Regions from separate parts of the Homo sapiens genome. Here regions 2, 3, 4 and 5 are each reported to be linked to region 1. Evidence: microRNA targets listed by miRTarBase, many of them from high-throughput screens and not tested one by one. Region 1 holds a microRNA gene; each other region holds the end of a gene's coding sequence.
The links. Region 1 holds the annotated microRNA hsa-miR-6089 (GGAGGCCGGGGUGGGGCGGGGCGG, at 2,646-2,669, opposite strand). A microRNA usually pairs through its seed, bases 2 to 8, with sites in the 3' UTR of a target mRNA and lowers its output. Matches are read on the target gene's strand: a 7mer-m8 pairs with bases 2 to 8, a 7mer-A1 pairs with bases 2 to 7 and ends in A, and an 8mer does both.

Region 2: the mRNA of KCNIP3 is a reported target of hsa-miR-6089. Seed matches in the 3' UTR shown: 7mer-A1 at 2,040-2,046 and 7mer-A1 at 1,661-1,667.
Region 3: the mRNA of BBX is a reported target of hsa-miR-6089. Seed matches in the 3' UTR shown: 7mer-m8 at 3,045-3,051.
Region 4: miRTarBase lists DTD2 as a target of hsa-miR-6089. Seed matches in the 3' UTR shown: 7mer-m8 at 1,379-1,385 and 7mer-m8 at 1,423-1,429.
Region 5: the mRNA of DNAH17 is a reported target of hsa-miR-6089. The part of its 3' UTR that is shown has no 7-base or 8-base seed match.

The regions. Positions count from the first base shown.
Region 1 is chrY:2,607,782-2,611,897 of GRCh38, reverse strand. It overlaps MIR6089 (microRNA 6089), which reads right to left and starts at 2,707; the gene lies at 2,644-2,707. LINC03112 (long intergenic non-protein coding RNA 3112) reads left to right here and starts at 2,658. Exons shown (of 2, transcript XR_001756051.3): 1 at 2,658-2,792. It also overlaps the pseudogene CD99P1. RefSeq lists an enhancer at 2,836-3,360.
Region 2 is chr2:95,383,399-95,387,514 of GRCh38, reverse strand. KCNIP3 (potassium voltage-gated channel interacting protein 3) reads right to left here. Exons shown (of 9, transcript NM_013434.5): 9 at 1,438-3,513. The coding sequence ends at 3,466. Among named protein-coding and RNA genes, the nearest start is that of FAHD2A, 17 kb to the left of the region's middle. RefSeq lists a silencer at 1,520-1,814 and an enhancer at 1,248-2,148.
Region 3 is chr3:107,804,989-107,809,104 of GRCh38, reverse strand. BBX (BBX high mobility group box domain containing) reads right to left here. Exons shown (of 18, transcript NM_001142568.3): 18 at 1-3,735. The coding sequence ends at 3,648. Among named protein-coding and RNA genes, the nearest start is that of LINC00635, 71 kb to the left of the region's middle.
Region 4 is chr14:31,444,850-31,448,965 of GRCh38, reverse strand. It overlaps DTD2 (D-aminoacyl-tRNA deacylase 2), which reads left to right. Exons shown (of 3, transcript NM_080664.3): 3 at 512-2,930. The coding sequence ends at 837. HEATR5A-DT (HEATR5A divergent transcript) reads right to left here. Exons shown (of 4, transcript NR_110045.1): 3 at 3,232-3,322. Among named protein-coding and RNA genes, the nearest start is that of DTD2, 11 kb to the left of the region's middle.
Region 5 is chr17:78,420,486-78,424,601 of GRCh38, forward strand. DNAH17 (dynein axonemal heavy chain 17) reads right to left here. Exons shown (of 81, transcript NM_173628.4): 81 at 3,212-3,668. The coding sequence ends at 3,421. It overlaps PGS1 (phosphatidylglycerophosphate synthase 1), which reads left to right. Exons shown (of 10, transcript NM_024419.5): 10 at 3,576-4,116. Among named protein-coding and RNA genes, the nearest start is that of PGS1, 44 kb to the left of the region's middle. RefSeq lists an enhancer at 2,065-2,644.

The sequences.
Region 1 (4,116 bases):
GTGGGGATACCCATACACGTAGCCTCCTGCCAATTCCCTTCTGTTGTCTTCCAGGTACAGGATTTAACTTCAAGTATTTTCAAAGAAAACTAAACCAGGTGTGCAGACCACCTCCAGAATTTGGGAGGGCCTGTGAAAATGAAAATGTGCGACCCATTGTTCCAACTGTATGAAGAATCTGAAGATGGCAGCAACACAGCAATAAAGCAGCATGGCACCCTTGTGTGCACAGGTCCCTGTGTGACTGCGCAGATCTATGCCCACGAGGCCTGACCTGGCCAAGGGAGTCACATTTGCCTTACGTTGTTCCAAAGACTAACCATTTTAAAATAAAAGCCAGCATACTGGCTGGGCGTGATGGCTTGCACCTATAATCCCAGCACTTTGGGAGGCCAAGGTGAGTGCATAGCTTGAGTTTAGGAGTTAGAGACCAGCCTGCTCCACATGGCAAAACCCAGCCCCTACTAAAAAGACAAAAATTAGCCGGGCGTGGTAGTGGGTGCCTGTAATTCCAGATGCTCAGGAGGCTGAGGCACAAGAATCGCTTAAGCCCAGGAGGCGGAGGTTGCGGTGAGCCGAGATCGCGCCACCGCACTCCAGCCTGGGCCACAGAGTGAGACTCTGAACCTACACTTCAAAAAAAAAAAAAAACAAAAAAAACAAAAAAACCAGCATGCTGGTAACAAAAAAAAAATATATCAAAAATCCAACAACAAAAATAAACAACACATATACTTCCTATGTTCCCACTGTCCAAACTCAATCCATTTATCACGCAAAAGAGATGTCTTGAAAATGATAATAATTCAATGACAATCAGCAAAGTCAGCAACAGAGGAGACTTTAAAAAGTTACTCACTGTTTCCTCCATCAGGAAAGGCATCGCTAAGTCAAAGTCAGCCCTTAAAGGAGGGAAATGAGCTGTTAATACCAATGTTCTGAGAAATGAGGAAGGAATGACCCAAAAACAGGTGGAGAAAACACCACGGCCCCACGTTTCTAAATACTTCAGAAAACGTGAATTCCTATCTTCTCATCACTCTTCCCTCAGGTGAAAACAGTAAAAGATGAGCATGAGACAGAAAAAGAGGGAGTAAGAGAGAGAGAGGAGAGAGAAAGAGGGGGAGAGAGGAGATAGAGGAGAGAAAGAGGAGAGGGAGGAGAGGGGGGAGAGAGAGAGGAGATAGATGAGAGAGGCGGGAGAGAGACAAGAGAGAGAGGAGAGAGAAGGAGAGAGTGAGGAGATAGAGAGAGGAGAAAGGCGAGAGACAAGAGAGAAGGAGACAGGAGAGAGAGAGATGGGAGAGAGAAAAGAGGAGAGAGAGGAGAGGAGAGAGAGAGGAGAGAGGAGAGGAGAGAGAGACGAGAGAGAAAAGGAGAGAAAGAAGAGGGGGAGAGAGAGAAGAGGGGGAGAGAGAGAAAAGGGGAGAGAGGAGAGAGGTGAGAGAGAGGCGAGAGAAAGAGGAAAGAGGGGAGAGAGAGGGAGAGAGGAGAGTGAGGAGAGAGAAAAGCGAGAGAAAGAAGAGAGAGAAGAGAGAGAGGGAACAGGAGAGAAGAGAGAGAGAGGAGAGGAGAGAGAGAGGAAGAGGGAGAGAAGAGGAGAGAGAGAAAGGAAAGAGAAGAGAGGAGAGACAGAAAGAGAAGAGAGACTGCAGTATCCATAAGATCCATAAGAACGTCACCAGGGTTGGGGGGGAATCGGATGCCACCTCTTCCCCAGGTTCCCCTAAATTTAAGAGTTTGCGATTCTGCAAACTGTAGAAGGAAAATTAAAACTTGGAACCCCAGTTCACTCTGCCAAAATAATTAATAATAATAATAATAAAGCTGGAAGCTGAGTCAGGCAGGAAGCTGTCTTTCCTTCTGTTCCCAAGCAGACAGTGCAATAACTCTCTGTTGACCTTATCTTAGTAAAGTGCCAATTTAGTGAGCGCAAGACAAATACATAATTGACTATTCTACCTGCTGCTTTTCTTTTGCAACAGGTGAATTCGGTAAAATGAGCCTTCCTCCTTCTTTCCCCTCCAGCGTGCTTTCCCCCTTTAAATACCGAAGCTCTCAATAGTATCTTTGGAGAAAGGCATAGACCCGTCTCCCGGGCTCCTTCCTGATCTTCGCCGAATCAACTCAAAAGGATTGGGACTTGTCCCAGATACTTTTTGGTTTACGAAAGAAACGCTGGCTTTTTCCTCTGAAACGGCTCCCACCTGGCCCCAGGAAGAGCGCTGGGGAGAAAGTGGGCGCCTCCTCCGGACCTGGGTCCCCGTGGGCACAGCGCGTCCCGCCGGGCACGGAAGAGGGGCCGGGTGTCCCCGCGGGGCGCCCCGCCCCTGCACCCCACATCCCCAGGCGGATCCCCAGGCCCAGCCCGCGCCACCCCCCGCGTCCTCCCACCCGGATCCCGCCGCTCGCTCACCGGGGCGGCCACCAGACGGCGGAGCAGGCCGAGGAGCCGCAGCGCCAGCACGGCCCCGCGCGCCACGGCGCGCCCAAGGCGAGCAGAGATCGTCCGCGAGTGCAGCGCGCGGGCGAAGGCGGCGGGACGGAACCTCCCCCACGGGCCGGGTGGGGCGGAGCCCGCGGAGGACTCGAAGGGGTTGGGTGAGGGGAGCAGCCCTGCAAACTCAGCCCAGGCTGCGCCTGCCCCGCCCCGCCCCACCCCGGCCTCCACTGGCGCACGGAAGGGGAGGGAACGCCGGGCCCGGGGAGGGGACAGAGGAGGGGGCGGGCGGAGGTGGCTCGGGCCGCGCCGAGGGGACCACGGGACGCCCTCCTTCCCTTCTCAGGAAACTGTGAGTGCCCCCCGCCCACAAGCCCGTCGCCAGGATGCCGCCAACTAGAGCAAAGTGAAACCCCCAACATTCTCGGGAAAGTGCGGGTCCCTCCCTCTCTACAGCCCCTTAAATGCACGCCCCAGGGCGGCCCCTACCTGGAGCCAAGAGAAACCGCTGCCCTTCTTGGAGAGGTGTGGGCCTCTCCGCGCCCGCCCTTGCTGTCCCCTCTCTGTTCCTAACAGGCACCCCCCCCAGGCAGCCCCAACGGGGAGGAAATGAAACTCTTCCTGCTCCTCTGCTCGGAAAACTATGGGGCCCCCTTCCAGCTGCTCACGGGGCGCTCAGGGCGATCCCCAAGGGGTGCAAAGTGCAATCCCCTCCCTGCTTAGAAAGGCGTAGGCCTTGACAGGCAGCCACGGCCCCTGGTCCTTTCTGGAGCGTCCGAGCTGGGGGCGCTCAGTGGTGAAAGATGGCGGGGGTGGGGGGCTTTGAGACACACTGCGGATACCCGCTCTGCGCGGGACCAAGGACGTTCTGCCGCAAGCTCAGAGACAGGGTTGGGAGTGAGGACTTGTGGTCGTGGTTTGGGGTTGGGGGTAAGACCCCTATCTGGGTCGCCTGGCTGAGTCCTGGTCCTTGGCGACTCACCCCAGCAGGCTGCGTCAGGGGCCCTTCGGTAACACTGGTCTTGTGCTGTCTCAGGCCTGCGGGTGACTCCGTCTCTCCCCAGGCCACCTGTGCCCCTGGATCAGACACAGGCAAGGCCAGAGGGGCTGGCCCCGCACCCTGGGGCCCACCTCAGGGGTTTGAGGAATGCAGCAGTCTAACTATGCACTCCACTCCTGGAGGCAGAATCATTTTTCTTTTTTCTTTCTTTTTTTTTTTTTTTTGGTCTTTGCTTCATCCTGAACCTGCCTGGGATAATGACGTGATGGCTGGAGTCCCAGCAGCCAGTTCGAAGCAGGAAGTCTCCTACAGGATAGAAGTTGTCTGTGTGTTGTTTGTTTGTTTATTTGTTTGTTTTGAGATGGAGTCTTGCTCTGTGGCCCAGGCTGGAGTGCAGTGGCACAATCTTGGCTCACTGCAACCTCCGCCTCCCGGGTTCAAGTGATTCTCCTGCCTCAGCCTCCCCAGTACCTGGGATTACAGGCATGCACCACCATGCCAGGCTACTTTTTGTATTTTTAGTAAAGACAGGGTTTCACCTTGTTGGCCAGGCTGGTCTCGAACTCCTGACCTCATGATCCGCCCACCTCGGCCTCCCAAAGTGCTGGGATTACAGGCATGAGCCACCGCACCCGGCCAGAAGTTGTATTCTAAGCATGGCAGAACACGTTGAGCA
Region 2 (4,116 bases), not on the chromosome of region 1:
ACCGGCTATCACGCATGTGAGTGAGTGAGCCTCACTTCTGCCATGTTCTATTCATCAAGACAGTCACATGAAGTCCTACTGAGTTTTGAGGGCAGGAAAACTAGTCTCCATCTCTTGATGAGGAAGCGATAAGGTCTGGGAGAGCAGTGAGGCTAGAAATATGGCATTAGCTATTTTTGGAAATTATGCTGATTTTTTTTTACTATTTTTGTAAGTAACATTGCATTTCTTTAGATTCCCTTAATATTTACTGCTGTCTACACCCTTCATGCTTCTTGCATCTTGGAACTTTTAGCTGGGAGATCGCCTTGCTTCCACATGAAGTAAAGCCCTTTTCTCTATTATCTATTGGTGGCAAAGTCTCCTAAGTTATTTATTTATTTATTTTTTGAGACTATGTATTTTTTGAGTCTATTCCTCCCCAGACTGGAGTGCAGTGGCACCATCTTGGCTCACTGCAACCTCTGTCTCCCAGGTTCAAGCAATTCTTCTGCTTCAGCCTCCCTAGTAGCTGGGATTACAGGCACTCGCCACCATGCCCAGCTAATTTTTTGTATTTTTAGTGGAGATGGGGTTTCACCATGTTGGCCAGGCTGGTCTTGAACTCCCGTCCTCAGGTGATCCACCCACCTCGGCCTCCCAAAGTGCTGGGATTACAGGCGTGAGCCACCATGCCACATTGAAAATATTTTATTTGCCTGGTGTAAAATTCCAGGTTGGTAGTTACTTTTCTCTTGGCAAACTGGACATGCCATTCCCGTCTTTCCGCATCACTGTCACTGAGGAGAGCTGGCAGGCAATCTGTCTCTGGCTGTCTTTGCCATCTCTTTGTCTTTGGTGTTCTGCAATTCACCGTAACGTGTTTAGGTGAGTTCCCTTTTATCTCACTTGCTTAGAACGTGTTTGGATTTCTTCAATCTGAACTGGTGAGTTGGGGAACCCTCCTCCTCCCTCCTCCCAGGCTTTCATTCTTGTCCCTTCCCTGGCATTGTCCTCACAGGGCTTATACTTCTGAAAATAAACACCAGGAGATGTGTTCAGGCAAATATTGCTTTCTTCTGCCCCGTGACCCTCACTCTCCAGCCAAGGGGACACCCAGAATGACTTCCTGGAACTGGGAAAGAAAAATTATCTGGGGGTGAAATACACATGGTGCCTCAGGAAGAAGTCCTCCTGCCCTGTGGGGTCTGTGCGGAGGCTGCAGGGCTGGCGCTTCCCATGAAGGCCACAAAGGCCCACTGTGTGCATCTCGGCCTCACTCGGCCTCAGTGAGGTCACACTGTGAGCCTGAGAATTTGAGCGGCATTCTCTGCCCCCAGAGCCAGCTGTCAAACATTTACCAGCACAGCACCAGGCAGGATCCACGGCTAATGGCAGCAGGGGTGGGAAGAGCTGAGCTGAAGTTCAGAGCTAGGATAAAGCCAACAGGAATCCCTCTCCTTTGTCAAGTTTATTTTATTAAAATATACAGGACTGAATATTAGTGGATGCTGAGAACAGGAACCACCCTCCCAGGCCGTGGCCAAGGGAGACGCTTCTGCCATGCAGACATGCGGCCGGTCTGTGTCCCAGCGTGGGAGGCAGACCCCTCCTGGTTGGGCTGTGCAGCCAGTCTGGCCCCAAGGCCAAGGCCGGCAGGGGTGTGGTGGTGATGCTCTCCTGAGGCCTTGGCCTTAGAGGCAGAGTGACACCAGCTGGGAGGGCTGGGCAGCGGGTGAGGGGAGGGAGAAGATCCCTGAGCCAGGGAAAGCTGATGCCCTCCTGGAGGCAGAGGCCCCCAGTCAGCCTGGAGCCTGGAGCCAGGCGTCCATGCAGCTCCGCAGGGGAGGCCAGGCTGTGTGTGAATGCCGAGGGGCCCCCATGGCCTCCGCCATACTGCCTTTCCTCTGAGGGCCCTGCTCACCCTGGGGCTAGCCTCTTGGGGCACACGGGGACTCCCCGGGCCAGCCCTGAGTGGAGCTGGGCTGGCTGTGATGGAATGTATTATGTGGGAATGTTCCTGGAGGGGCCATGCGGCCTGGGACCGGGTTCCTTCTGGGTGAGGCCCCAATCAGGCGGGAGCAGCATCTCTCTCCTCCTGGGGGTTTCTGCTGACCACCCAGCCACAGCCCTCTCAGCCCTCACCATTGGCTCCAGCTTTGGGCTGGCATTCTCCATCCCCAGATGGAGGGGACAGCCAAGCAGAGTCCCCAGGGTTTGTGCTTTTGAATGTTGGTCAGCCGGGCTGGGCTTTGGGGCCCCACTGATCCCAGGCACAGAGCAGACCCCCAAGGCCTCTTCCCCAGGGCCACCATATTGGGGCTACTGGGCCCAAGCCTCAGCCAGCAGGAGGGCCTGGCCTCCGAGAAGCAGTGTGCTGGGCTCCCACTAGGGCTGCGCCTGAGCTGCTAAGGAATGCTTGTGCTTTTTGTGCAAGGCAGAGGGACGGCGACACTGCTTCAGGAGAGGGGGCTCAGCCAAGCTGCTGGGCCATGGGAGGGGCACTACAGGAAGAGGAGGGACACGCCCCTTCCCAGACTCCTCTGAGCTCTGCCCCGGGCTCCCTGGCTGCCAGTCTCTGAACCACGTTCCTCCCGGGACCTAAGAGGACCTTGGAGGGAACAGTCTGTGCTGGAGGGTGTGTACAGCCCCACCCACTGCATTCCCACTGAACCAGGACTGGGGCAAGGAGAGGCTCATCCCACCCTGTGGAGCTGGCAGAGAGTGCCCTCAGATTCTCCACCACGACCCAATCCCTAAACTTGAAATCCCCCGCCTTCCTGCCATGGAGGGAGAATGGGGCCCAGTGGCCCCTCACCACTCAGGCTTGCCCCACAGTGGGTGGCCTGGTACCCAGCTCTTCCAGGTCAGTGGAGTAGCAGGGGATCCTGGGACCCCCAGGGAAGAATTTCCAGAAAGCTGCAGGCTTGGCCTCCATTACCCCCTCTCCCCCCTGCCCCCCAGCTGGTCCCTCTGGGGTCCTGAGGTGAGGGGCTTTCTAGAAGCATAGGTAGTGGGCAGAGAGTGGCTACGGGGAGGAGACCAGGGGAGCCTGGGGCCGGCCCACTGTGTGGCAAGAAAGCAGAATGGAGAACGGGACGAGGTGGGCTCACACCGGAGATTGGACCCTCCCCTGCAGGGGCACTCGAGCCCCTTCTTGGTGACATCCAGCAGCTGGTGGCCTGCAGACCTGCTCTGTCAGCCACTCACCCAGAGGCAGCCTCGCCTCGCTGGCCTGGGAAGGGCTGGCTGGGGCTCCTGGACTCGGCCCCTAGCCAGACTCAGCCCCTCCCTGAACTCTGTCCCCTCTGCCAGCCCAGATGAATGGCTGTGTGTGTGTGTGTGTGTGTGTGTGTGTGTGTGTGTAGCAATCTGTTCACTTTTTGCAAATCTATTTTTTAAAAGTTTCTTGGAGGCTGCTCCTGGCAGGATGGAGGTTTCTTGGGGGTGGAGGTGGCTGTGGCCATGCACTCCTTTGGACGTGTCCTAGATGACATTCTCAAACAGCTGCATGGAGCTCATGATGTTCTCATCCTGCATGGAGAGAGGAAGGGAGGCCTTCAGGTGCTGGGTGGGCTCCAAATCCGACCCCCTTGAGCAGATTCCCGCCAGGGACTCGGAGCCTGCAGCGACTGCCTGTCTGTCTGTCTTATTGGGTGCAGGGAGCTGGGGGACAGGGAGGTGAAGTAGCTGGTCCGAGGTCCCCAGCTGGTGAGGCACAGCCTGTCTTCAACCCCACTCCTGACTGCAAGCCCATCTGGGATGAGCTGATGAAGGCGATCCCGGCTGGCCTCCAGAGGAGGTGGGCGCTAACCAGGACTGCTCTGGGAGTGGGGCAATAGAGGCGCTGGAGGCCCAGCATCCTGCCCCCTGAGGTGCTCTCTGGAAGGGCCAGCAGCAACACTGCGGAAGCTCTGGTGCCTCCCCACGGTGACCCTCTCCCTCTGGCTGGCCCCATGTCTGCCCCTAACTTGAGGTTCTCCAGGGACTGGGCTGAGGGAGGGTGTGGGGGTAGTGGGGGGATGCTGTGGGCTGCAGGGGTGGGTGGGGAGGAGGAGACTCAGACAAGAGGGCAAGTGGAGCTTGGGGCTGTCCAGGAGGTGGCAAGGGGCCAAGGACAGCTGCCACATCCTGGAC
Region 3 (4,116 bases), not on the chromosome of region 1:
CCAAAGACTGCAGAGTGCAAACAAAATTTTATCTGACTTACAGTAGCATCTGACTTAATAAGAAAACAAAAGGATTTGAACACATTGGATTCTAAATAACCAGACCAGTTCAGATGCTCCTTTTTGTTCATAGTGTTCCATCATTATTTTGTTTCTCCAGCAATTTTAGTGGCAGGAAGTAGAATCACAATGATAACGTGGGAATTATTTTAACATGGCTTTGGGACATGGCATCGGTAGAAAGCTCATCTGACAGAATTAAATAAATATATTTCTGATATTTGTGGGAAAAAGACTATCGGAATTACAACAGTAGAATTTACCTTTTAAAAGGGGTTTTAATGAATTAACAGTTTTGATCTAAAATCTGGGAACTAACCTAATTTGGGGACAAGAACCTGTATTTCCAATGTGGCTGTGGGACATTTTTCTTTTTCCTGATCTCATATACAGTACCCAAACAAATAAAAACTTTAAGGATGTCTTACAGTATTTTTTCTTTCACTCAGCTTCTTACAGCTGCAGCTTCAGTTACTATAATATACTCTACACACTTCAAAATTACATAGGAAATACCCAGAATAACTAAATAAATAAAAGGCTAAAGAAAACTGGAACAGTACTGCGTCTCCATCTGAGACGCAATCTTCTACTTCCAGCATCGCAGAGAAGGGCTAGGACAATTTTTTTTCAAAAGATTTATATACAGGCTTGAATCCAGAAATTAAGGTTAAAAGCATAAATATTGATAATTTCAACTAAATTCAGAATGGTTTCAGAAAGATATGATACAACAATTTAGAATAAAACAAAGCAGAAGAGCATCATATTTTGGTTTGCTTGAGATATATATAAGGTGCAACAACTTTTTCTCTTGAGGATGCTGTGGGACAAATGTTAGTGTAGATGGTATCTGCTGGCAGATTAAAGTACACACTATAGCAATATGATTTTCCAAAATAAAAAAGAATGAGAGAAATGAAATGAAAATGATAACAAAAGGTGGGGTGGAGAGCACTAATATTGGTCTGAAATATTTGTGCTAACGAATGTTGTTACCTGAAAATAACAACACTCCTCTCCAGCAGTTTCAGGGCATGAGAAGCACAATTATTGAAATCAAGACTTTACTCAGAGAATCGACAAGGTGAGTCTAAGGAACTATAAAGCTTTGCAGGATTTCTGCTACTCTCAGTGCCTAACCGCTTAAAAATTAAGCATTTCTACAAAAAGGTTTGTTTTAAAGTATCTGAAAACAGTCATCTCCAGTAAGTTGCCCTCCCACCCCCAACCCTGCCTAAGGGAAAAGCCACTGAGGTTTAGGAAAAGCAGATCAAGTAAGATATTAATCACATAGAAAAAAAGTAATCTTTTGTTTTGCTTTTTTTTTTTTTAAAAAAGGTCCCAGGAATATACAGCAATCTCGTAAGGAACTCTAGTGAAATGTAATCGGAGGACTGAAGGAGGGTGCTCTGGCAAAAATAGATCTATTCTAACGTGTTCTATAGAATAACAAGTTAGTACCATTGTCAAGGTGCATGTTCCGCACCATACAATTTTTGTTGTTGGTTTTTTGTTTTGGATTTTAGCTAATTATAATCTTCAAATCACTGCTAGCGAGTGGTCCAAAACTCCAACAGCCACCAACATCGGGACCCAGCAATTTCAAACATTCACTTTTTGTTTTGAAATTTAGAAAATATTAATAAAACAGCATCATAGTAAAAATATTATGCAAAAGTCTGGAACTGCTCACTTGATTTATTCCTACATGAATGGGGTTAAGTTGTAACGTTTGATTAACCTTTTACTAATGCCTTCTTCCTCCATCCCCACCAGGAATATGCATTTTTGAGCACATCATTCCGATGCTTTGCTACCCTCTTTACCTGCTTTGGAAAAAAAAACAAGAAGAAAAACCTCTATTTTTTTTTCAATCCTGTTAGTATGTTGTACATATTTTCCAGCACCGGAACTGAAGTAATATCTACAACCATGAGAAGCTAAACCTAGTATGAATAGAGTCATTTTTTGTATGGCTATTACGTCAAATTACAATTAGAAAAAAAATCATTACAATTCAGTCAAGTATAAATAAGAAAGCTAGATAAAACCATGTAAACTGTCACCATTTAGAGATCTAATTCAAAAGCTTCAAACTCGAACTAGCACTGTCAAAATTCCGCCAGTTTGAAAACCATTAAAAATTATTGCTGGAATCCAATAATTAAAATTTGGTAGTTTGTGCTGTGACGCAAGAGTGGGGAAATACTTTGTGCTATAGAACAAATACCCTGTAAAATCTGTAGCCTCAGACTAATTTTGATTTATCACTTTGCATCTGTTGCTAGGAAACAAGACACTGTGAATGTCAGGTGGTTAAGTCAATATGTTGAATGTTCTAAGCCAGTTAATCCACTTGGCGCTGCTTATGTATGGTTGGTTTTATGTTCAAAAGCAACAAAACACAAAAAGGAAACAGAGACTTGCAGGTGGATCTATGACTGAGAGTCCCACTCTGGTCAGGCATACCTCCCTCATCATTGACTCAGTACCTCCTAAACAACACAAACTCAAAATGGCTCTAAAAACCTGCAGTGCCAATCAGGCTGTGCATAGCAATTGCAACCCGTCCAGCCAATCTGTGATGGATGTAAAAGGTCTGTAGCTCCAAGTCCACATGAAGTGAGTGTCTTCAATGTGTTTAGAATAGTGAAGTAATACTAAGGTCACTTCTGAATAATATTTTTGTCTTTTTTTTTGTTTGTATGAACAATCCATTGGTCACTTAGACCCCTATGTAAAAATAAAAGAATCCTCAAGGCATGAAAACACCAGTAATCTGTAATCTGCAGGACTCTTCCCCTGTCTGGGAAAATATTTGCCACAATTTGCCTCAAGCAAATTCTTCTTGGTCACTCAAGGCTAAGAAAAAAATTCAGATTGTAAGAGTTGTAATTTTTTCTCTCTCTCTTTTTTTTTTTTTTTTGCCAGCAAACTACCATTCTGGTGGCAAATATAAAAGTGCAGAATATATGGACCACGAGGCCGAGCATACACCACTAACAATGGTACATCTGCCTGCCCAGGCTGCTTGGGAGTCTCTGGAACAGGCTTTTTAATATTTATTCTACAATATAAATGTAGGTATAACCTATTATATAAACCATCTTAAACTTAAATCTCCATGTACAAAAAAGACTAAGAATATCTAATAATAACTAGTGCAGTGCGTCAGTTTTTGTTTTTTTTTTGTTTTGTTTTGAAAGAATAACTAGGTAATATATGAAACTAGTTTCACACTCTCTGGTTGGTAAAAGAGATGCTGGGTGAGCTACAGTAAAGGCAGCCTTTTACCAAGTTACCACCTATTACCGTCAAAAGCCTTCAATAGAAAGCAAAGCTCCAGGATCATTCTGTTTCTGCTCAGTATCAGACAGATAACCTTACCCTCAAAGATTCTGGGTTCTGAGAGAACAAACTGGCCCAGGATGCTAACTTCTGCTTCAAGTGAATCTGGGCCGTGTGGGGCAACAAGCACTTGTTTGCAGTCTATATTTTCCACCACTTGGACTCACTAGCATCCCTCGGTAAAGACAAGGCTAGGGTAGTAGGTAAAGCACAATGTTTTACAATGAAAGGGCGCTTCACTGGTCAGCGCAGGAAATAAGTACAGGAGCCTGCGGCATTTCTTTTGGCTGTCCATCATGGGTGAGCGGAGTTGACCTCTGACCTCTGTAAAATAAAAGGAAGAAAAAGTCACTTATTCAGCATATGTTATTAGAGACAGGAGAGGACGATGAATAACAAGTGTGTTCCAATATCTTGTTTAACAGTTACTGCTGTTACTTACATCATTTAATGAAAACTGTTTTTGCTTTAGAGTTTTTTCTCTTCTGTCCCCTTCCTTATCCTTTTTTTCCCCTTCCTCCTTCCCATTCTGTCTCCCTTCCTAAGATTTTATATCTGAATTCCCCTCATACAACTCAACAGCATACCCTCTGGCCTCAAACAACTAACCACTTCCATTTTGAAGAGATGAAATTTTAAGTACCAACAGATTTGGGGCAACTCTTTAAGAAGTGGGAAAATTTCAATCAAGGACTGGGGTTCTTG
Region 4 (4,116 bases), not on the chromosome of region 1:
GCAGAGATCACGCCATTGCACTCCAGCCTGGGCGACAGAGTGAGACTCTGTCTCTAAATAAATACATAAATAAATAAAGCAAGCAAGCAAGCAAGCAGAATTTGGTGTGAGGAGGAGTTATCCTCATATTTTTCCAGTGGGATTTACTTACTAAATAAAAAGAACAGGAAGGTAAAATCTTCTCATGTATTCCCCCAGGGGAACAATATTTGAGGTTCCAGTGTACAGTTAATTCTTTAGACCTTTCTGGATGAACTTATTGTTAGGTTATCTTAACTGCCAATTCAGATTTAAAATATCATGCCATTTTCTGCATGAAAATTGCCTTATTTTTCATGCTTAGATTATTTAGCTTAGTGAAGCAGTATTTTAAATCTAAATAGAGACTTTGGGTTAGAGGCATGAGCTGACAAACTGAATTTTAAACATGAGATTTGCTGACTAAAAACTTGATGGTTTTCTTCATGTTTGTTTTTCACTTTAAAATGTTTTGCCTTTCTTCCTCACCCAGTTAATACACTGTTAAATGTGAAATTAAGTGAGACAGAAAATGGCAAGCATGTCTCTATATTGGATCTACCTGGCAACATTCTTATTATCCCTCAAGCTACCCTTGGAGGAAGACTAAAAGGAAGAAACATGCAATATCACTCTAACTCTGGAAAAGAAGAAGGGTTTGAACTTTACTCTCAATTTGTGACTCTATGTGAAAAAGAAGTAGCTGCTAATAGCAAGTGTGCTGAAGCTAGGGTTGTAGTGGAACATGGCACTTATGGGAACAGGCAGGTGTTAAAGCTGGACACCAACGGACCATTCACACACTTAATTGAGTTTTGAAAATGAAAAACTAGTTTCTATAGCTGTTTTCTGGTATGAAATGATCTAAAGTATAATTAGATTTTCTTCCCCTTAATCTTGAATATACTAATCTTCAGCATTTTTAGACAGGAAAATCTTGGGTTTCATATATAACTCTGCACCTGCTAATTGGATGACTTTGCCAAGTCACCTAAACTCTGGATCTCAGTCACCTTTTGTCCTACATTCCTCTACCCTTCTACTTGAAAATTTGAAATATGCTGTCTATTCACTTCATAGTCATTAAGGAAATGTTCTTAATTGTTTTTTTGTTTTTGTTTTTTTTTTGAGATGGAGTCTTGCTCTGTCGCCAGACTGGAGTGCAGTGGCGCAATCTCGGCTCACTGCAACCTCCACCTCCTGGATTCAAGCGATTCTCCTGCCTCAGCCTCCCAAGTAGCTGGGATTACAGGCGCATGCCACCATGCCCAGCTAATTTTTTTGTATTTTTAGTAGAGATGGGGTTTCACCGTGCTGGCCAGGATGGTCTCGATCTCCTGACCTCGTGATCCGCCCACCTCGGCCTCCCAAAGTGCTGGGACTACAGGCATGAGCCACCGTGCCCGGCCTCTTAGTTGTTTTTTAAAAATTATGTACATTTTAAGTATTTTGCAATGAAGAAATTCATGCAAACAAGAAAAACACATTTCTTATACCATCAAATTTGTGTAGCATGTAATAAAAATAACTATTTGTATTAAAATTAGGTAAACTTCAGCACAACCCAATTATAACTTTGTTAATTTTGTTTACTATTTCAGTTTTCTGTATTTCCATATGTAAGTCACCATTTCTTTTAATAATATGCATGAAAATGTAATATAGGGCCAAATGTGGTGGCTCATGCCTATAATCCCAGCACTTTGGGAGGCCGAGGTGGGAGGATCACTTGAGCCCAGGAGTTTGCGACCAGCCTGGGCAGAATAGCAAGACCCAGTCTCTAACATATACATATACATATAGATATATATGTAATATAGAAGGGTTATTGTGTGTTATATTACTTTCCAGGGACATTCAAATGTTTTACATTACTTTAAGAATCTTTACTTGATATAAGAACAAAGTATAAGGGTTTAAAAGTTGTTTTTATTAAACATACTATATAAATGGGTTAATGGTCTATTTTTCAGTTTTTACCAAAATCATGTGTCTCACTTTTTGTCTTCGCTTTTTAAAGAACTGGTTCATGAAATTAGTGTTAGTTCATAAATTGTTTAAGAAGTTCCTTTTCCATTGAATTAGATTGCTGTAAAAGGGAGAAAAAGGGAAGCTTCCCATAAGAATAGTTTGAAAACAAATTGACTTGTTCATTTCCATATTATCTGCTTGATGATATGGAGCCAGTGTCAATTTTTCTGTTAGTGAATGTTTTGGACTAGATGTTCCCGTCCCCAAAATTTATATGTTGAAGCCCTTATTAATGTGATGGTATCTGGAGATGGGGCTCCTCCAACCATCCCATCCTGGAACATATAAGCCAGAAAGAAAGTAGTCTCCAGAAACAGACCATGCTGACACCTTGAGTTTGAACTTCTAATCACCAGAACTGTGAGGAAATAAATTTCTGGTGTTTAAACCACCCAGTCCTATGGTATTTTGTTAGGGCAGTCTGAGCTACGACAGTGATATAAGATAGACAGCTAGTAAGGTAAACTTTTCAAAGGCAAGAGAGGAAGATATACAAGAAATTGAAAGAATAATTAAGTCAGTAAGAGGTAATATTCAGTTTTGGCAAACTCCTCTGACTTGAGTTGAAAATACTTTTTTTTTTTAAGAGTAAAAACCAAATAACTAATTCTAATTGGCAAAAAAAGGTAAATAAATAAACATCCTAAGTAGCTGCTGAAATTTCCGTTGTGTCTTATAGTTTCTTTAGGTCTGTGTTCCTAAGATGCTTAAAATTTTTATCATGAAAAATCCTATTTTCTCTATACCCTTCCTGTACTGTTCTATTTTGGAACCAGAGAATCAATAACTGGCTTGGTAATGAGCTCATTGTCCTTAACTTTTGCTTTATTGATTCACAATACACTTACTGAAATGTAATAAACTATTCATAAACTTGCAAACTCCAGTTGTCTCAAAGTTTCTCCAAAGAGGTATGTACATATTTCAAAAAGATAATGTTACCTATTTTAAACCATTTTGATTTTATGTCTAGGTGAAATGCTGACTCATAGCCCTTGATTGCTGTTTTAGAGTTTAGGCAATCCTCTTTAAAAAATGTGCTTGAGGTACCTGGGGAGAATAACAATTTCAAGTACATGAAGGGTTATTAAGCAGAAGGTGATAGGCATCTTTGCTTAATTTCCAGAGAGGCTACAACAAGGGAAAAGGCAAATGAAGTCGTGGATATGAAAATAACTATACCTTGGCTTTCTGTAGCTCTTCTGGCCCAAGGTGCTCAAAGAATCTTCAACAGATATTTTATCTTCACAGTATATGTATGATGAGGATAGCGCTGTGGAAAGTAAGACAATGCTTAAGGAATTTCCCCAAGGTCACACAAGAGGGAGGACTAATTTCTATTTTCTTGACTTTCTTGTAGTGACAGTTGTTAAAAATTGAAATTGGCCTGGGCGCGGTGGCTCACGCCTGTAATCCCAGCACTTCGGGAGGCCGAGGCGGGTGGATCACGAGGTCAGGAGATCGAGACCATCCTGGCTAACATGGTGAAACCCCATCTCTACTAAAAATACAAAAAATTAGCCAGGTGTGGTGGCGGGCGCCTGTAGTCCCAGCTACCTGGGAGACTGAGGCAGGAGAATCACTTGAACCCAGGAGGCAGAGGTTGCAGTGAGCTGAGATCGCGCCACTGCACTCCAGCCTGGGCGAGAGAGCAAGACTCCGTCTCAAAAAAAAAAAAAATTTTGAAATTGATCTTGATAAAGACCTAGCATCTCTCAATGTGGATCACTTGAGAAAGAATAGCCAATAAATTGGTTTATTTTCTAAATTAGGAGCAGACAGGATTGCACCTAATTTAGGTGCTTTCTGCCTCTGTTTTCCTAAGATTAAAGCATGTTTCAAATAGAATATCTAAATACAGGTACTATTTTATCTGCCAATTTAGAAACCTCTGGATTCAATTATAGAAAATACTATATTTTCCATTGTGTATAAGACACAATGGATATGGTTGTAATAGCTTGAGTACTTTCATATAAAGTAAAATCAAACATACTTTTACCATTCTTTCATGAGTTCAAGTCATAAAAGAAGGTATACCATTTATTTCTGAATAGTATCTGTACT
Region 5 (4,116 bases), not on the chromosome of region 1:
TGTTGTGGGTAGTTCTGTTGCTTTGGATGGCTGGGCCTTTGGATGGTGGCTTGTGGGGAAGGGACGGTGAGGAGTCAAAGATGAGCCAGGACCCATGTGGCCGGCACATGCGCTAGTGCCGGCATCTCATGTGTGCAGCGTGGGCTCCCTTAGTGCCTGGCACCTTAGTGCTCTGCTAAGTCTCATTGTTTAAAAATGTGTAGTTTATCTGCAGCTTTTCCTAGTTATTTTAATTACTTTTCATTTTATTTGAATAGTGTGTGCAAATGTAGAGAGTAAAACAATACTGCGGCCATTTCCTGCCCTCCCTTCCCCCAGGCAGCCACTCTTGGCTTGTTTCTTCTGATGTGCACACGTGTCCGTATTTCTAAATAACGTGCATATCCTGCTGTCTTCCCCCAAAATGTGTACTTAACCAAAACAGCACCAGTGTCACTCCTGAAACAAAAATTACCAAGAATGTCTTAGTATCATCAAATACCTAAATGGTGTTCACAATTCCACTTGCCTTAAAATTAATTTTTTCGATTATTTGACTTGAAGTCCAATTAAGGACTACACCTTGTGATTGTTTTTTCCCTAGCAATTTATTTTTTGAAGAATGAACTTTATTTTTATTGGATCTACTTAAAACATTTTTGTGTCACCTAGTAGCAGGGGATTTTGAATACATGTCATGTGTGTTTATAAAGCCAGCTCTCCATATCCCCCAGTGTCTCCAGGAGCTGCTTTTGTGACCTCACTGCCTGATCTCTTTATCATCTTCAGGTGCTTGACCCTTGCACAGAGAGAAGCTTCCTGGGCTACAGGGCATGGCAGCCTGTCCTTTCGGGGAGTGAGATTAGATTTAGTCCCTGCACTTTGCCTCTCTAGAAGCAGCTTCTCGCCTTTCCCTCCCGAGGGCTGGCAGGAGTCACTGTCACCCTTCATGGGGTCTGAAAGGTTGCATAGGCTCACCTGGTCTTAGACAAGGACAGTTGCAGCTTCCGCACCAGGCAGACCTGCAGTTTGAGTGGCTGGGGATAGGTGGAGCGGCGGCCTGGCCACAGTGCCCTGGACAGCAGCACATCACATCAGTTAACACTGTTTGCCTTCCAACTAGTTATTACGGTGTCCTGTGGGACAATTAGACTGGAGGAGCCAAAGGAATGTGCAGGGGCACTGGGTTTCTGTTTGGAGAGAGGCTCTCGGTAAACAGAGTTCGCATTCCTCCAGATTCTGTGGGACCAGAGTAAATATCATTATGCCACAGCCAGGCTTAAGCAATCTATCTGCAGTGCCGTTCCCGCAGCGCACACTGCTCCCTCTGTCTCTGCTGATGACCTTCGAGGCTGTCCTAGGCAGGTTCTCCCTGAGGAGCTCCCCACACCAAGCCTCCCTAACTCTGCAAAGCAGCCGGAGCAACAGAGAGCAGCGGGCGGCGGGCGGCGGCCGCCGCAGTCCTCCCGGCTTTCTAGGTGCGCGGGGCTGTCGTGTTCCAGTCCCTGTGTTCCCCGTCGCTGGAGTGCAGCTTAAGTGCGAATCATTTCTTGGAAAGTTTAGAGATAATTTTGTCAACTACCCACAATATGTATGTGTGGACTAGATTACTTTCTTATTTCAGGATCTAAAGGCAAAATGGAAAAACGTCACATTTTGTGGTTATTACCAGGGACTGAAGTGAGTTGCCCGGTGGCCCCTGGTGGCTTTAGCTCCCCTGGTCACCTGAAGGGCTGCAGTGACCCCTCCTGGCCAGCAGAGGTATTGGCCCAGCCAGGCTGGGGGAGGCTGAAACTGCTTCCCTTCTCTGCAGCCACAAAGGGCTGGATTCCTTGGGCGCCAGGAGGGGAGGATTTTTCTTTTCCCTCCGATAGCCCTACTGGGCGCTAAGATTGTTGTGAATCATTACCCTCAGAATTTGGACTTTCTAGATGCTTCTTAACCCATGATTTAGGTGAGTAAACTTGGAAAAATGTTTTTGCAAAACTTGATGATCAAGCTGAACGTAGAACGATATTCCTAATGGGTGTGTTTGCCTTTTTTCCCCCTTTTGAGACAGGGTCTCACTCTGTCACCCAGGCTGGAGTGAGTGGCATGATCATGCCTCGCTGCGTACTTGACCTCATGGGCTCAAGCGACCCTCCTGCCTCAGCCTCCTGAGTAGCTGGGACCACAGGCACATACAACATTCCCAGCTAATTTTTTGTATTTTTGATTGATAGAGATGGTTTTGCCACGTTGCCCAGGCTGGTCTTAAACTCCTGGGCTCAAGTAAGATTGCCGTCCTGGGATTAGAGGCGTGAGCTGCTGCAGCGGCCTGCTTTTCTTTGAAGCCTGAGAAATGTTGAGGGCCGGGCACAGTGGTTGACACCTGTAATCCTGGCGCTTTGGGAGGCCGAGGTTGGTGAATCACCTGAGGTTAGAAGTTTGAGACCAGCCTGGCCAACATGGTGAAACCCCATCTCTACTAAAAATAAAAAAATTAGCTGCGTGTGGTGGTGGGTGCCTGTAACCCCAGCTACTTGGGAGGTTGAGGCAGGAGAATCGCTTGAGCCCAGGAGGTGGAGGTTGCAACGTGAGCCGAGATTGCGTCATTGCACTCCAGCCTGGGCGACAAGAGTGAAACTCTCACTCTCCCTCGAAAAAAAAAAAAAATGTTGATCCTGTCTTGGTCCCCCTGGGATCCGTCTTTTCTGACGTTTGCCGCTGTCTCCCCTCATCCCCCAGGTTGCTAGTTAATTCTCTCCCCTCGTGCCTGCACCCTGCTGCCCTAGCTAGCCTGGCCACCTCACTGCCGTGTCCTGCATCAGCCCAGCCACAGAGTCCTACAGGTCCGGGGCTTGCTTGTGGGAACGGCTTGTTCTTCTAGACTCTGGGGGCGGGGGCTTGGGTGTGTTTCCTTACTTGTAAAAGGTCCTGTTGTTTTTGGGAGCAGGGAGTAATGGCGGATGAGACGCTGTGTGGAGGCGGCAGCTCCTGGTATGGGGTAACGCCCTGTCCCCTCATTGGCAGGTGGTTTGCATGAAGCATCAGGCCAGAGGGTGTGAGTGCCAAGCCCTCACCCCACATGCTGCTCCTGTTAAAAGCAAACTCCACTGACCCCCCCGGGAAGTCAGGATTTGGGATTTACTTCCTGGAATGCTTGCCTCTGGCTGCTGGGAATTGGGGCCTTTCCCCAAAGCCTGAACCAGGCCTCACAGTGGCCATCAGGCACAGAATGGATGGGCACAGCTGAGTGGCTCCACTGGCTTTAATCTGCCCCACCTCTTCCACACCAACCTCCACCCTCTGGTTCCGATGTGCTTGGTTACAAAGCACCTGATTATTTAAGAGAACGAAAAACCACCACCAGTTCCTGTAAAGAATAAGTCACAGGTGCACAGGTGAAGGGCTGAGTTGTGGTCCAGCCCCAGGGAGTGTGGGCTGTGAGGCAGGAGCGAGCTAAACCTGTAGGAGCAGCGCCACGGCTGCCAGGATCCACTTCGCTGCCTTCTCTTTGGTCTTCAAGTTAAAGGTCCAGACATAGGTGGGGCCGCGGATGCGTGTTTTGTACACGGGACACTCATAGATGTTCTTGGTCTCCATGCGGTCCACAGGAATGGCCTTGATGAAGATGACAGGCATGGCCGGGGTCAGCTCTTTCAGCCGCGCTTCAGCGATGACTCCAGTCTGGGTGTCCCAGCGAGCCCCTGCAGGGACAGTATGGCTGAGGGTCAGGTGTGCTGCCAGTAAGTGAGGGAGGGGCTGGCAGGAAGGGTGGGGTCCTCACACTCCCCGCCCTCTGCAGAGCTGGGCTCTACCCCAAAAGGCTTCAGGCCAGCTGCCACGGCTGGAAGCAGAGGCCTTCGTAGGTGATGGCCTGCATGTTGTAACTACCCCGTCCCGCTGGGCTCAAGGAACAGCTCAGCTAAAGCCCTCGGGTTCCATCCGTTTAAATCTGTGGCATTTTCAGAGCCTCATCTGTCAGCCTTAATGTCAGTGGCAGGAAGTCATAACTCCAGCTAAAAATTACAGAGTAAAGTTCCCTGATTCTTAATGTGTAATGTCTGCCCTATGTGTACATACACAATATAATTATACATCTGTGCATATAAATATTGCCTTTAACCAGACTGCTATTATTTCTACTCGCCCTAT